Linked DNA regions of Homo sapiens: region 1 is linked to region 2. The links come from fine-mapping of genetic effects on gene expression. Tissue or cell type: whole blood. Region 2 holds a variant in brackets; the other region holds the start of a gene. All regions are shown on one strand. Distances are between the middles of the regions.

Region 1 (8,372 bases), 44 kb before region 2:
TGCTGAAGCTTTAATTATCTCTTTCTTTTATTCAAAACATTTACTTGGTATTTACTATGTGCCAAGCTCTAGTATACAAGGGTAAATAAGACACAGCCAGTGCTTTTATGGAATTCTCTGGTCTGTGCAATAAGTGAGGCATAGACATTCTATGGAAGTATCTCAAGAATCCTAGCAAATCATTCCTTTGTGTAACAATAACCAGCCTAAAGGATCATGTTTGTAAAATACTTCATTCTTTGTTAAATACTGCCAGTCTTATCCCATTTGCCTCTTCCCTCTCCCAGTGTCTAGTAGAGCCCGGCTATCCATGAAGACCTAGATAAATGCATACCCAATTGATCTGAAATACCTGAACTAACCACTGTTTTGAAGCCAAGTGTCTAAGACACTAATTGTAATTAGCAATGTCTGAACATAATCTGAATTTGAATGCCTTTGGGCAAGTTATGCAGAGTTTGCCCCAGGTCCTACCATTTTCCATTGTATTAGACCTAGCTGGATTCACTTATTTTTGTTGCCTGACAAACCCAATAGGTATTTGAGTTTTGGGGGGATCTTACAGCCAGTACTCTGCTGTCATAGGTATATGAGTAATTATTTGATCTCTAAACCATCTGTGGCATAGATAGACTACCAGTAGCCTTAAGATGCTATTCTACTCAATTTAATAGAGCATTTAAGTTCAAATTAAATCTCAATTTTTTAAGCAATAAACAGTGAGTTCCCACTTTTTATAAGCCTTTATATTAGAAAGTTGTGAGAATTCATAGAATAATTTATCATTGGAGAATTCATAGAGGGTTTCCTCTAAGAAAGGGCCCTTGCCCTTAAAGACATTGTACCATAATTGGAAGGTTAAAACTCTCACACATGAAAAATAGTAAAACTGATGTAAAACAAGTGATAAAATTGCAAAAGCCCTAGAAGTTGACTAAAGGAAGGGAGACTTCCCAGAGGGGTAGGATTTGAACTGGGCCTTTGAAGCACTGGTAGGATTTGGGGTTGAAGCTATTCTAAAGGGCAGTGCATAGCTGACTCAGAAGCAGTCTCAGAGGTGCAAATGCACAGGCGTGTTGAGGGGACAATGAACAGAGTAACTTGGCTGGACACTTAGGTTGAGAATGTCAAGAGCTTAATGCCAGGCAGAGCTGCCAATCGGGAAATAGTGGCAGTCACTCAAAAACTAAGTGACAATACCAAAGGAGTATCTGAAAAAGATTACATCTAATTTTTTTTTTGAGTATAGAATTGAGGGTGGGTGGAATTGGTAGACAGCCTCTCAATTAGGGGGTCACTGTATTCATCTAGATGTTTGGTAACAAGGCCCTAACTTCAGGTCAGAAAAAGGAAGCAAGGAAGAGGAAGAAGAAACATATAAGACAATTGACAAAACAATTGACTGCTGATCAGCCATGCACAAGAGACAAAGAGAAAAGCAACAAGATTGACTGTGGTTTTAAGACCAGACTGGCAAGACAATATTGGAGCCATGGGGGAGGAAGGGTGGCAGGGAGAAATAGAAGATGGGGAGCTGATTTTAGAGGGAAGACAGTAAGTTTGGTTTTAGTCTGGGCAAGGCATAAGCATTCCAAAAAATTGTAGGTCCAGAGTTTGGGACAAAATTTAGGGCTAAAGATAAGGAAGTTATTTCTAATATGGAAATGTTAGTTAATATTGAGGAATGAATGAACCATCTGATGGGGAGAATATAAAAGAAAGATTATAAAGAAAAGATCTGAACTCAGGAACGTCCCAAAATTTGGAGAGCAGGAACAGAGGACTAGTGAAAAAGGCAGAGACAAGGTGGTCAGAAGAGCATCAGAAGCTCCCCCAGGGCAGTACTTCTGAGGCAATGGAGGAAAATCCCTCAAAGCAGGGGCAGTTCATCATAGGGAGCCGTGAAGACTAAGAACTGGAAGTCAGCCCACAGGTGTGTTAGAGACAGCTGGAAGGCATCAGAGGTGACTGGGGCTAGATAACCTTTCAGATGCTCTTGTCTGTCCTGGAATTCTGTGAGTTGATTTGAAGGTTATCGAGCCCAGCTACAGTGGAGCAGGGTGTGGCATGAGGAGGTGATACTACAGTTGCCCCTTTACAGAGTAACCCACGTATGCAACAATTAAGACATATGACATATTTGGACATTAGCATGTGGAATTAAAATGACACACAACAATCTACTGGTTGCTGTCCAATGTATTGTAAAGCAAATAAACTCTGAAGCATGACCCATAATACTGTCTCTACCATCTCCTTTTTCAAATCAACCTCAAACTTCCCCCTGTCCATTACACGAACATTTCATTTCTGGTGATTCTCCTGACATTTCATCAAATAAATCCATTCAACAATTCGGCAAGCACCCACTAAGCACCTATGTGTATTGCCAGGTACTGCACTAGGAACTTGGGACTCAGAGAACCTTAAAGGTGTGCTTCTTGCCTGTGAGGAGCTCCAGTTCAATGGAAAAGCTCACCAACAGGAGAAATCTGGGGAGAAGACACCCTGAAGCAGCAGACAACAAAGAGCCTGATGATGGGGAGACCTCAAATAATGAAGGCAAATAGATCAGGTTCCAGTGGCAAGAGCAGCAGGACCAGGATTGTTCATCCACTCACAGAATCTTAGGCTTGGAAAGGAGCTTGGAGGACATCCAGGCCAACTCCGTATTTGACCCTGATACAACTGTCTCATTACTGCTCACACTGAATATTTTTACTCTGCATTTTGTCAATTTAGGTCTCTCATTCCCTGCCCCTCAGAGCCATAGTATTTTTGGGTTAAAAGTCCTGATTAGTTGGTAATCTCACTCAGGCTTAGCCTCTCCACCTCCATCCCCTCCACATGAACCCATTGCCTTTGCTCTTCTACTCAGTGCATCCAGGCGGTGAGCAATCAATAGCAATTATTTCAGTTCTGTTTAATTTTTCTACCTTTTCGCTGATCATTTTATATGGAAAGAATAAGCCTTTCCATAGTCCCCAAATCATGCTTTTGTTCAATAATGATTACCTCTATAAGTTATTAAGATAATAGTTTTGGGTTTTTTGTTTTTGTTCCCCCTCCACCAACAGCTGCCTCTTAGGCATAGCTTGTAAACAAAGGCCAGCCTGGAGGGATCACCGTCTGCTAAATGGATAATCACAAACAGATGTCAGTCATAGGAAAACAGATTTTTAAGTTCTTCACCATTAAGCCTCCGAAAACTCTAAGCTGAGAGACAATCTTAAGAATAGTTATATTATTTTACAGTGCACATATTTGGTGCAGAAAATATCTCACCTTATAAAACTGAGCAACAAGAACAATATGCATAGGAACAAGTGAGAGAAATCTGGGGCAGGAGGACATTAGCTTATTTGTGCCCCTCAGCACAATTTCTGAGGCAGAATGTCTCTTGCCTCAAATGGTGTGGAGAGAAGGTAGGCCACCCTTCCCCCACCCTGGCAGCCTCATCATGGTCCACAACATAATAGTATGAGAGTATCTCAACCCACTCGTTACTCACATGAGGACTTGCCACAGCTCCACAAGTAAAGATGCAAAAGTAAACAACAAAAAACAGTTGCTGTTTGTGTTAGATTTCCTTATAGTAGCCACCAAAATGAACAGCCAAAAGGAAAAACAAAACAATCAACATGCAGTAGCTCCAACCCAGGATTCTTTCTAGCTGGGACATATGAGGATGGGTAACAAAAAAGCACTCAAAATTTGGCGTTAAGATATATTCAAGAGAAGAAAAGTTGTTCATTCAGCTTAAGGTTTGCCGTAACATGAGAGTGAGTCAAACCAGAACTAGTTCTGAGGAACTGACGAAAGCCTGGCTTATTTGGAAAGTTTTGGTTTTGCTTTTAGCAGTTTGTCTGTGAATGGGATTGCATTCCTGATTTGGCTCTTGGCTTAGCTATGGTTGGTGTTTAGGAATACTAGTGATTTTTGTATGTTCATGTGGGATCCTGAAACTTTCTGAAGTTTATCAGCTTAAGGAGCTTTTGGGCTGAGACTGTGGGATTTTCTAGATATAAAATTATGTCATCTGCAAACATGGGTAGTTTGACTTCCTCTCTTCCTTCTTGGATGCCTTTTCTTTCTTTCTCTTGCCTGATTGCTCTGGCCAGGACTTCCAATAGTATGGTGAATAGGAGTGGTGAGAGAAGGCAGCCTTGTCTTGTGCCGGTTTTCAAGGGGCATCCTTCCAGCTTTTGCCTATTCAGTGTGATGTTGGCTGTGGGTTCATCATAGATGGCTCTTATTATTTTGAGGTATGTTCCTTCAATACCTGGTTTGTTGAGAGTCTTTTTTTTAACATACCTTGAGAGTTTTTAATACCCTTTTATTCCCTCTCTTTCCCCTATTCTTATATGTGCTCCAGCTTCCCCATTGTCCCTGGAGCACATTTAGGAATAGGGGAAAGGGATGGAATGAAGAATACCAGCATGTCTTAGTGCTGTGCCAGGAAATTGACTCATTTCCTAGGGCTTCTGTAACACATGACCTCAAGTCCTTGGCATTCCCTGACTTATAGTTGTATCACTCCAATCTCTGCCTCCATCTTCAAATGACATTCTTTTCTGTGTGTATCTCTACATTCCTCTCCTCTTATGAGGATACCATCCGTTTGATTAGTGCCCACCCTAATGCAGTATGACCTCATTTAGACTACATCTGCGTAGACCCTACTTCCAAATATAGTCACATTCTGAGGTCCTCAGTAGACATGAATTTGGGGGGAACATTATTCAACTAACCTCACTTCATTTCATAGTGCCTCATTTCATTCTCAGTGCAATGTGTGGTTTAGAGTTAGACCCATTTTACACATGAGAAAACAGGACCAAGATCAAACAATGTTTCCTTAGTTGCATGGCTGAATTTGAACTCGGACCTCAGTGGCCCCACTATACCTTCAGGCTTGTGATTGGTGAGATTAAAACCACATGGCAAGAAAAGGCAAACTTGAATATAGGCCTGAATGATCAATCCTTCTCCTGCTGCCTCCCGCCCTTTTCCTTGTGCTTATAGGGGTAGGACCAGCAGAGATGTGGGGCTGAACACTCAGACAGAGGATGTTTTTAAGAAAACATCTCTCCTTGCCTGTCCTCTAAGCCTTCCCTGCCTCCTTGTTTCTTCTACAAAAGCAAGGATCTCCTTTCCTCCTCCTTGTCCTGCATCCTCTTTTCGTCCCATCGCTTGAACAAGAAGTACTTTAAGAAGTACTACGAAGCTGTGTAGTACCTACAGATGGGAGTGGCTGCCTAGACGGCAAGAGTTGGGACTGTGTCTGTGGGACCCGTGCTTCCTCTGGGGATCTGCTTCTACACCCACGGCTCCAGGCATGTGGTTTCCTTAGGAGTTGCCATTCTCTTACCTGACCCTCTGTTCCTGGCCACAGTGACTGGCTGAGGAATGGACATATGTCCCCTGTGTGGCTTTGAGTTTTAGTATCTATGGAAAACACACCTCACCTACCAGAGTTCCTGTCCTTCTTTAGGAGTGAGGTGCACTCACCACAGTTTCCTTTCCTCTCTCTTGGGTAGCCTTTCTCCAGGCTTGGCCTGCCTCTCCTCTTCACACTTTCCTTTGGGCAGTTCAGCTCTGCTTTGCCACAGTTTAGGGCATCCTGAAGCAAAGGAAGGCCCAGGTATATTCACAGCAAGGCCAAATGAAACTCAAGCTAGTGTCTCAGCACATTAGCCTGCCTCATAAATCTATATGTCTAGAGAAAATAATGGAGGGTTACAAACCAAAGTGTTAATAAAGGCATTTCTGGGTGGAGGTAACTTTTTTTAGTTTTTTGTTAAACTTTTGTTTTACATAGGTAACTTTTTTAGTTTTTTGTTAAACTTTTATTTTACATAGGTAAACTCGTGTCATGGAGGTTTGTCATACAGATTATTTTGTCCCCTAGATACTAAGCCTAGAACCCAGTCATTTTTTTTTTTTTTTTTTTTTTTTTTTTTTTTTTTTTTGCTCATCTCCCTCCTCCCTGGGGCCTCCACCCTCAGCTAGGCTCCAGTTTGTGTTGTTCCCCTCTTTGTGTCCATGTGTTCTTATCACTTAGCTCCCACTTATATGTGAACACATGTGGTATTTGGTTTTCTGTTCCTGCATTAATTTGCTAAGCATAATGACTTCCAGCTCCATCCATGTTCCCGCAAAGGACATGCTCTTTTTTACGGCTCTATAGTATTCCTTGGTGTATATGTACCACATTTTCTTTATCCAGTCTGTCGTTGATGGGCATTTAGGTTGATTCCATGTCTTTGCTATTGTGAATAGTGCTATGATGAACATGTGTGTGCATGTGTCTTTGTGATAGAATGATTTACATTTCTTTGGGTATATACCCAGTAATGGGATTGCTGGATTGAATGGTAGTTCTGTTTTTAGCTCTTTGAGGAATTGCCACACTGCTTTCCATAATGGTTGAACTAATTTACACTCCACCAATAGTGTATAAGCATTCCCTTTTCTCCATAACCTTGTCAGCATGTTGTTTATTAACTTTTTTTTTTTGAGATGGAGTCTCACTCTGTCTTCCAGGCTGGAGTACAGTGGTGAGATCTCAGCTCACTGCAAGCTCCACCTCCTGGGTTCATGCCATTCTCCTGCCTCAGCCTCCTGAGTAGCTGGGACTACAGGCGCCCGCCACCACGCCCGGCTAATTTTTTTGTATTTTTAGCAGAGACGGGGTTTCACCATGTTAGCCTGGATGGTCTGGATCTCCTGACCTTGTGATCTACCTGCCTCAGCCTTCCAAAGTGCTGGGATTACAGGTGTGAGCCACCGCACCCGGCCAACTTATTAACTTTTTAATAATAGCCATTCTGACTGGTGTGAGAGGATCTCTCATTGTGATTTGGATTTGCATTTCTTTAATGATAAGTAATATTGAGCTTTTTTATATGCTTGTTGGCCATGTGTATGTCTTCTTTTGAAAAACGCCTGTTCATGTCCTTTGCCCACTTTTTAATTGGGTTGTTTGTTTTCTTCTTGTAAATTTGTTTAAGTTCCTTATAGATACTGGATATTAGACCTTTGTCAGATGCATAGTTTGCAAAACTTTTCTCCCATTCTGTAGGTTGTGTGTTTACTTTGTTGATAGTTTCTGTTGCTGTGTAGAAGCTCTTTAGTTTAATTAGATCCCATTTGTCAATTTTTGCTTTTGTTGCAATTGCTTTTGGTGTCTTTGTCATGAAATCTTCACTCACTTCTATGTCCAGAATGGTATTGCCTATATTGTCTTCCAGGGTTTTTTATAGTTTTAGGTTTTACATTTAAGTTGTTAATCCATCTTAAGTTGATTTCTGTATCTGGTGTAAGGAAGGAGTCTAGTTTCCATCTTCTGTATATGGCTAGCCAGTTATCCCAGCCCCATTTATTGAGTAGGAAGTCCTTTCTCCATTGCTTGTTTTTGTCAGCTTTGTCAAAGATCAGATAATTGTAGGTGTGCAGCCTTATTTCTGGGTTCTCTATTCTGTTCCATTGGTCTATGTGTCTGTTTTTGTACCAGAACCATGGTGTTTTGGTTACTGTACCCTTGTAGTATAGTTTGAAGTCTGGTAGGATGATGCCTCTGGCTTTGTTCTTTTTGCTTTGATTGCCTTGGCTATTTGGGCTCTTTGTTGGTTCCATATAAATTTTAAAATATTTTTTTCTAGTTCAGTGAAGAATATCACTGGTAGTTTGGTGGAAACAGCATTGAATCTATAAACCGCTTTGGTCGTTTTAATGATATTGATTCTTCCTATCCATGAGCATGGAATGTTTTCCCATTTGTTTGTGTAATCTCTAATTTCTTCTAGCAGTATTTTGTAATTCTCATTGTAGAGCTCTTTCACCTCCCTGTTTAGCTGTATTCGTAGGTATTTTTTTTTTTTTTGTGGAAATTGCAAGTGCAATTGTGTTCCTGATTTGGCTCTCGGCTTCGCTGTTGCTGGTGTATAGGAATGCTAGTGATTTTTGTACATTTATTTTGTATCCTGAAACTTTGCTGAAGTTGTTTATCAGCTTAAGGAGCATTTGGGCTGAGACTAGGGGTTTTCTAGATATAGAATCATGTCATCTGCAAACAGGGATTGTTTAACTTCCCTTCTTCCTATTTGGATGCCTTTTCTTTCTTTCTCTTGCCTGAGTGCTCTGGCCAGGACTTCCAATACTATGTTGAATAGGAGTGGTGAGAGAGGGCATTTTTGTCTTGTGCTGGTTTTCAAGGGGAATGCTTCCAGCCTTTGCCTATTCAGTATGATGTTGGCTGTGAGTTCGTCATAGTTGGCTCTTATTTTGAGGCATGTTCTTTCAATACCTAGTTTGTTGAGCATTTTTAACATAAAGAAATGTTGAATTTTATAAAAAACCTTTCTACATCT
Region 2 (8,774 bases):
CGAATGAGAGAGAATGAAAATTTTCAATACATTCTTTTTTAAAATAAAATCTTTTGATACTTTTTTCATTGTGCAGGATTCAAAAGCATGCTGTATAAAAACATGCTGTATAAGCAATGAAAAAAGAACTAGGAACAAGGCTGCAAATATTCCAAGTAACTTTCTCCACTGGGATGTTAAACTGAACATTTTATTAAACACAAAATAAACAAGAAAATGGACATGCTGGTGTACCAAGTAACAAAATAAATAAGAATATTTTATTAAATTAATGCAGGTACAAAAAGTGACAATCAAATGCAGAATTAGGTATCATCTCTGCCTATGCCATTTACGATGAAACATGAGACAAAAGGGATAAAGTGCCTTACAAATCCAACACCACAAGGAGGAGTTAGGACTTAGGAATAGACTGAGTAGACTATGTGCCTTGCTCAGCCACAATTCTTGCCTGTAATTCACACAAAGAACACTGTCACACCAATTACTGTACAAATGCACATGTACAAACAGATAACACAAGGAGCTCTGTTGGAGACACTGTTTCTTCAGCCTTGACATGTGGCAAAGCCAAGGTACTCCTTGTCATTGACACCAGAATATGGCCAAGAGGGAAAGGAAACTCTGGGATCTCCCAGGGCATCTGAATCTCGAAACCTCCAGGAAGCCTCTTAGGAGGGCTGTGTAGTGATGACAGCTGGTGGCATTCAAGGGTTCAAGCACAACGAATGAGGCTTTTCTGGCACAGGGTAGCTAGCAGTCAAGGTACACTGCCGGAATTTCCAGAAAGAAAATGTGATTTTGCAAGTACAGCATCAAAGTGAAGTTTATACTTGACAGAAAGCAGAAAACAAAAGTTCCAGACATGATTCTGTCATACAGAGTTAATAATAAGATTGCTTTTTAGGACTAGATTGACTCAGTGCACCCTGGAGAGCCCATGGGTCTCCTTTTGAGCAAACATAAACAAATCCAAACTCTGTCCTAGAGCAAATACTTAACAAATGGTGGTTGTCTAAATGTATATGTAGGACATATTTAACATATACTGGATCATATGAAAGATAATGAAAAGCTATGGGAAAGATAACTTAGAAACAAAGAAGGCATGGATCCTCAGCCCTGGGAACTTCAAATTCATTCCATCTGCTATATAAGAAACACTAAAATAAATAAAAATAGCAAAGTACACAGCAGACATACAATGTGTTACTATTTAGGAAAAAAATTTTAAAAATACGTGCTTTTAACATACATTTCCAAATGTAGACTATCTTTAGAAGAACATATGAATGAAAGGCAGTAGCAGTTGCTTCTGGAAAGGAAACTTGAATGGCTTGGAGGATGAAGTGGAGATTTTCCAACCATCTCCCATGGGATCTTTTGAATTTTGAATCATGGAAAGGTATGAATTTAAAATTTAGTGGCATTTAAATAGAAAAGACAGAACTGTTAAACAATACCAGACACTATATAAACAAGCATTAGATTATATGGCAAAGGCAAATCAGGAATAAATATAATGCTAGAAAAGGAATTCCAGTGTTATTTTTCAGGGTTATTTTAAGTACCGACCTCTCTTTGTAAATGAAAATTACTCTGATTATTAAGATGTTTAAGTATATCCAACCGTCCCAGACCACATTGGCCTATTTCCTCCTCTTGGCAACACTGCTCGGGTTTTCCCCTCGCATCATCCTTATGCTATGACACTGGACTAAATTGTAATAATACATTTTCTTGTTAATCTCCTCATTATACTATGAGCTCCTTGAGGACAGGTACTTTGTCTTGCTCACATCTGTAGATTCAATGCCTGGCACAGCGATTGATATTGCAAGGGCACTTAATAAATGGTTTTTGAATAAAAGAATTGCTTAAAGTAAAATATAGCTGTAAATTGTATTATAAAAGGACAGTGGGTGGCAGTCTGAGGTCTGCTATTTACTGGTTTGGGCAAGTTACTTAATCTGTTTGCTTCCTCAGCTGTACGATGGGTAAAATAATAGTGGTTATCACAACAGGGTGGTTACAGCGATGAAATGAGATTATGTGTGTAGGCTACCACATAATTGTAAAGCTGATATTTAAATGGAACAGATACTGCACAGACACTTGAGGTCTGAGAATAAGATTAGGTCAACCAGAGTATTAATGGGTTAAATAAAGGTGACATCCTATGCAACCAACGGTTTGATCTTTATGCTTCCAATGTATACTTGTAGTTATAGAGGAGACCAAGCACCTTACAAATACTCCATGTTTTACTAGATGTGAGCAAATCATTAAGCAGCAAGTTTAGTTTGGCGACAAAATTGTAACATCTACTACAATATATCTTCAAAAGAAATCATTCACAACCACACTCACATGACAAGAAGACCTCACAGACTCAAAATAAATAGGAAAAACTCATACATAAATACTGTCCCGTTCCAACACTGAGACTCTCAGTCATGCAGAAAACAAATTGAGGCATTGAGTGGAGGCAAAGGGCACTTCTGCAGGAACTGACCCTCAAATTAGGGATTCTCAACCCGTCTTCCTAGGATGAGCAATGGATGATTTGCTTGGAGGCTCCTTGTTCAGAAGTATCCTTTCTCCCTGTCACAGGCGTCGATGAGCCCCTCAGGCATTTGAAAGTATCAAGGTCTCCCTCCAGGCTCCCTGTTTGACTCCATCTTTCTTCATTCTCCTCCTCTGCTTTCGCCAGGTTCCATTTTCAGTGCTTGGGCCTTTTAAGTCCCACATTGCCTGCATCCCACGGGCCCATTCCTTCCTCTTGTCACGCTCAGCCCCGATGAACCCCTAAACCACAGGTTGAGAATCCCTGCTTGAAGATCAGAAGTTCCAATGCTGGATTACGTCTCCTCCAAATGTGTATCTGGAGAGTGATAATAGTATATTAATTTCATGGGAAGTGGTCTGGGGAAAAAGTAACAAGAAATCTAATAAAAAACATAACTCATAGTTGCTGATATGATAAATGATAAATTTGAAATGAGAGAAAGCAGCAGGTTATATTTGTACCCAATTATCCTTACATGATATCCTGGAAAACCCCTCAGTCCTGAGCAAATTGGGATGGCTTGTCCCCCAGCATGACCCAAACAACATTTGCTACTTAGCTTTACAACACAGATGATGCTATGGGCCACAGAATGAAACTTGCCTGAGCTTGTCCAGGTTAATTAGACTGCTTTAAACTTGGGCTCATTGTTAAGTTTGGTTTCTAACTACATTAAAAAAATTAGAAACCTTAATATAACTTTCTTCTTAGTTCAATAACCTGGATGAGGTTTTTCTGCCCTGCTTATAAATGTAAACATTTGTAGCAAAATGGATTGAAGCAGATGGGTTAAGAGTAAGGGTCTGTGGTTAGGCTAATGGCCCCCAAGCTTGATTTTTGTGATCAGCTGTGTGTTCTTGGGCACTTTACATTATCTTCTTGACCCTCTGTTTTCTCTACTGTAAAATGAGGATAAATTCTAGTATTTCTCTCTCTCTCTCTCTCTCTCTCTTTGGTAATGGCAAGGGGTGGGGGATTAAATGAGATACCGTGCATGGTGCAATTAACATAGTATTACAATACTGACACACAATATTTTAGAATCAATTAATTATCCATCCACCTAAGTCATCCTTGTCCCCTGCTGCAAGGAGCTGCTAGGGTGCAGGGCAACAGAAGATTAGCAAATGAAGCTGACTCCTTCCCCTTCCCTGCTCCTAAACCTCCTCAGACGGTGGAGGAGTTCTTGTGTTAGCTGTGAGGCAAAGGGGAACCAGCATTCTTTAAAAGGAGAGGAGATTATGACTGATGGATTTCTCTTTGTTATTGCTTTAGCTTTTTGTTTCCTTTGACTTTTACTTCCCAATTCCTTCTGATATTCTTACCACTTTGCTTCTTTGAGTTTGTATCTTGGATGCCACATTTTTTCACATCCATCATTCTCCCTTGAGAAAAAGAAATCATTTTTATTTCCATATAGCACAGCTCTACATCCCATACAGTGACCCAAGTTTAAATTTCAAGTTCTGTGAAACATTTGTAATCCCTAGGAAGTCTGGTGGACATCCTTATTCCACAGGTCCCAACTTATGAGGTTAATTAATTCAATAGTGTAGGGCACATGCTTTTGATCCTAGATGTTCTTGAGGAGTATACACTTTTATTTTTCATCTTTTCCCAGAGATGAACCAAATTCTGAGGTATTTTAATATCTATTGATTTCTATCCATTTCTACTGCCAACTAATCTTTTTTTCCAGAGAAATATTCAAAATGCATGCTGGCAACAATTATTTCTTTGTGCAAATCAACTCCATCTCAGGATCTTACTGTCATTGAAACTTGATCCTTATATTCTGGCTATCTCAGTCCTGTTAAGAATATAATTTTTGGAAACAGCTTATCTCTACTCTCTCAGTTAACACTACTTTCCCCCATGTAAGGGGTTATGGGGAATTTTTCAACGACTATTGGAATCCCCTTCCATATTCTACTTCCCTATTTAACATCAGACAACTCTATACCATCACTGGATCTCTTGGTATACTTCTCTAAGTATTGGAGGAATTATTTACTCTGACTCATCTTAAATGGGAGGAAATTATTTGAATATACTCATTTTCCTGGATT[T/C]TAATTGTTCCCACAGGTAAATGGAGAAATGAACACATGCAAATTATGTAACATCCTCTACCAAAAATTTTGCAAAATACTCTATGGTAAACATACTACAGTTCTACAGAGGAACTATTTTTATTACTTAGGGTACCCAGAAACCAGCTGGTTGCAACTAATGCAAGACTAAAATGCAACTGAAAATGACGGGCATTTTAGCTCTTTCTCTTCTGTAAGTCTGTGGTTATTTTCATGATAGAAAAAAACTGTATGACACTGCATCTTCTACCTCCATCCATACCCATTCTCCTGCCCCTCACCCCTTACGCTTCATCTTCACCCAGTGATCCCACTCAGCTTCAATATAATTGCTGTTGAACAGTGGAATGCCTTTGCACCACCTTGCAGAGGTTAAGTCGGGTTTCCTTGCAGCCATGATCCAATTCTCACCCCTTCCTCACCCCCAGTGGAGACCACTGCAATTAAGGAAATACTACCTTTTCTTAAACGGAAGATGAATGTCAGTGCTACACCAAGGCATAATAAGATGGCTCCCAGAATTACCAAGTGAGTCCTTTCATTTGGAGGATGTGCCAGAGGTAGTTCTGAAAAACAAAACAAAACGAAAACAAACTGACTAAAGATAAAATTTTGATGGGAAGGGGTCAGGAGAATGGTCATCCTTGAAGTTTAGTTTAGCTTTAGGATAATTTTCTTAAATGCCAAAGTTTGAGTGGCTGGAATGGCGAGATACCTGTGTTAAAATGGGAACAGCATGGAGAAGTGTGAGAAGCCCAGGCTTTGAAAAGGTGGTGCTGGGGCTAAATTCTGCTGCCCTTAACCAGTTTTGAGGTCTTGGGCAAGATACTTAACCAGTGTACAAAATACAAATGCTAATACATTTCTTGTGAGGCTAATATTTATAATGTGCTTGCACAGTACCACATGGAGTGGCTGCTCACTATTAAATGGCGGCCTTGATTATTTCACTTCCTCTTGCTTTTTTTTTTTTTTTTTGAGGCAGAGTCTTTCTCTGTTGCCCAGGGTGGAGTGCAGTGGCGCAATCTGGGCTCACTGCAACTTCCGCCTCCCAGGTTCAAGCAATTCTTGTGCCTCAGTCTCCCGAGTAGCTGGGATTACAGGTGCACACCACCACACCCAGCTAATTTTTATATTTTTAGTAAAGGCAGAGTTTCACCATGTTGGCCAGGCTGGTCACAAACTCCTGACCTCAAGTGATCTGCCCACCTTGGCCTCCCAAAGTGCTGAGATTACAGGCATGAGCCTCCGCTCCTGGCCCCTCTTGCATTCTTTAATATAGAAGCTAGTAGCCTACAGTACATGGCAGAGATGGCCCACAGTAGAACATGGAAGGCCAACCAGCACTGCTAAGGAGCTCCCACCTCCTCCTATCTGTCATCATGATTGGAGGCCAATGCTTGTTGTCTTATCTTTCTCTGCAGTTTGAACATCTCTGGACAACAAGCCATTAGTATCTCTTACTAGGCTCCTTGTCTGGGGTACCATGCAGGAGGAAAGGGGGTCCCATGGTACACAGATGTTCAGAGGCTGCTAACTCCCACCTCTCACCCTTAGTCAGCTCCTGCCTGGCTCAGCTCTCCACTGAGACCCATGATCCATCTTTGACTACCCAGGTGAAACTTTAAAGACACAACAACAGCCAGCTTTTTCCGTAACTTACAGTTTACAATGCCTGTTCACGTATGTTTTATTTCAGTTTCAGAACAACTTTATGAGTTAGGCATGCCAGGTATTTAAAAAAAAATCCCCAATTTACAGATGAGGAAACAGACTCAGTGCAGTTAGGTGAGTTACTGTAGGCCACCCAACAAGTAAGTTGTCATAAAACAGCTTGTAAATGGCAGGAACCCACTAATCTAGCTTTTACTGAAAGCCAGTTCAATACCTGAGGACTCGTACCCCAGTAAGAGCATCCCCATCATTTTCTAAAGTTTTTTCCCCCTCTTTCTGTTCACAACACCGTCCTGGATTATCTTTTCCTATTGATTGACTTTTCTATCTAATTTTTCAGTTGTTTTTGCTGAAGTACGTGGCATTTTCCTATCAACATGTATTGGGGGAGGGGGCAGTGAGCAGCTCTTCTCAGAATATCTTTGTGTTTATATTAAATATCATGCTCACTCGCCTCACTTTCTTTCACATTCTGAGCCTCTCATCAGACTCTGTCTCCCACCCTACCTACTTCTGTAGAGTAGTGAGATAAAAAAAAATAGTTGAATTTGTGCAGGCAATGGTCTCAAATCATTTTCATACACTGTTGCTAATCTGACCCTTACAATAAGCTTGCTCAGTAGATTATAATCCTACAGGGAAAGTGAAGCACACAGAAGTCTAGTAATTTGCCCAGGGACACACAGCCTCATGTTCTATGCACTAAGCAGACTGCTAGAGTTGAAATATTGTAGACTACCTTGGGAGAGGCACCGGGGAGAAAGGGTCCCTCATGTTTGGCATAAGATAGAAAAATATGTTCCATTTATTTCCTGCCACCCTGGAAAGAGGGAAGCAGCTCTGATGTGCCAGGATTTGGATTCCTGAAACAAGGCCTGAATTGAGTATTCCTCTCAGGTATTCCCCAGGTTTCCCGGCTATGAAAGCATTTCCCACATGGTGTTGGATTGCCTGTTTTTTGTTTGTTTCTTAGTTTTTTATCTGTTTCCTGAAGAGTGTGAACTGAGTCTTATTATTCTATGTGTATCCAATGAGTACTACAATGCATGGAACAAAAGGTATATTCCATAAATATCTGCTGAATGTTTATTAAGTAACAATATGGTTTGGATGAATGGAGGTGAGGAATTAGGATATATTTTGTAAACATAGTGTTATTCATTCATTCATTTATTCAACAATCACTGAATGACTATGATAGGCAGACATCATGCTAGGTGCTAGGGGACAGTGTTAGACATATTTTAATGGACACATTCAGAATATTACCTGGGATGACCAATTCAGCTGTATGGTTTTCCTCAGGATCTAATCTCCTAAAAGTGCAGTAGAAAATCTCATTAGTTGTTGTGTTGATTCTCAGTGTGCTGGTCACATTGAAAAGCTTCTCCTCTCTCTTGGAATTGGTGGTGGTGGTCTTACCACTCAGGACTTGATGGTCACTGCTTGTCCAGATGACTTCGGCCTTGGGGTAGCCCTCAGCCTGACATGTCAGTTCATGTTCAGAGGTGACTGGATCCACAACCAAAATTCTTTGGTTGATTTTGTTGTATGGGGCTAGGACATAAACAAAAAGAAGTCAGGGCTTTTGCTGAGCACAGAACTACGTACATAGCTTGATGCTGTCCACATTAGAAAGAGTATCAATGCAGGCTGGTTCTCAGAGGGATATGCTTAATGTTCAGATGCCTCAGCCGTGGGGAACACCTGCTAGCTCTGCCTCAATTCAATTCAAAGTTGGGACAAGTTTGGATTAATAGGAATGACTATCTTTCTATAAAAATCATGTTGGTACATTTATTGGGCTCAAACAAAATGTAAAGATTAATTTACACTAAAACCCCAGACTTCACCACTATGTAATATATCCATGTGACAACACTGCTCTTGTACCCCTTAAATTTCTACAAAAAATAATTTAAAGAGAATTATCTTTAAACCAGAAGTCTTTCTATTCAAATACAAAATATCCCTCTCCATTTGTTCAGGTTTTCATATGTTTCTCAGTAAAGTGCTTCTTCTTAAATTTATTCTTGGATATTTTATTTTTGTTGTTATAAATCTGTCTTTATAAACATGAATCTCTCCAGCTGGTATGCTTTCTTTTCTTAGACTTCAGTAAACAGAAAACCTGATTTTGAGGTGTCATTCACTTTTCTGATTTGAAGTCAATGATCAGAAATTAGATATGAAAATACATAGTATTTCATCTGTAAACAGTGATATATGTTCCTGGTGATACTTTTTAATGTTTAAATTTGTTCTTTATTTTAGAAGTTTTAAATTTACAAAAAAGTTGCAAAGATAGTATAGAGTTACTGTATACTCCTTACCCGGTTTCCTCTATTGTTAGTATCTTACATTACCATGGTACAATCGTCATAACTAAGGACGTTAGTACATTATTAATAACTAAACTGCATAATTTATTCCATTCCTCC

The links. PIP is the estimated chance that this variant, and not a neighbour inherited with it, causes the effect.
Region 1: it holds the start of PDCD1LG2, and the variant in region 2 is fine-mapped to the expression of PDCD1LG2 in whole blood (TOPMed, PIP above 0.99).

Annotation. Positions count from the first base shown.
Region 1 is chr9:5,505,943-5,514,314 of GRCh38, reverse strand. PDCD1LG2 (programmed cell death 1 ligand 2) reads right to left here and starts at 3,784. Exons shown (of 7, transcript NM_025239.4): 1 at 3,512-3,784. The region is part of intron 2 of INCR1 (interferon stimulated noncoding RNA 1); the gene reads left to right. RefSeq lists enhancers at 3,686-3,735, 3,896-3,955, 4,016-4,095, 4,037-5,236.
Region 2 is chr9:5,461,950-5,470,723 of GRCh38, reverse strand. CD274 (CD274 molecule) reads right to left here. Exons shown (of 7, transcript NM_014143.4): 4 at 7,603-7,890; 5 at 5,118-5,225; 6 at 3,895-3,954; 7 at 170-2,884. The coding sequence ends at 2,862. All of the region lies in intron 2 of INCR1 (interferon stimulated noncoding RNA 1), which reads left to right. Among named protein-coding and RNA genes, the nearest start is that of CD274, 16 kb to the right of the region's middle. The variant T/C (reference allele first, on the strand shown) is at 4,639.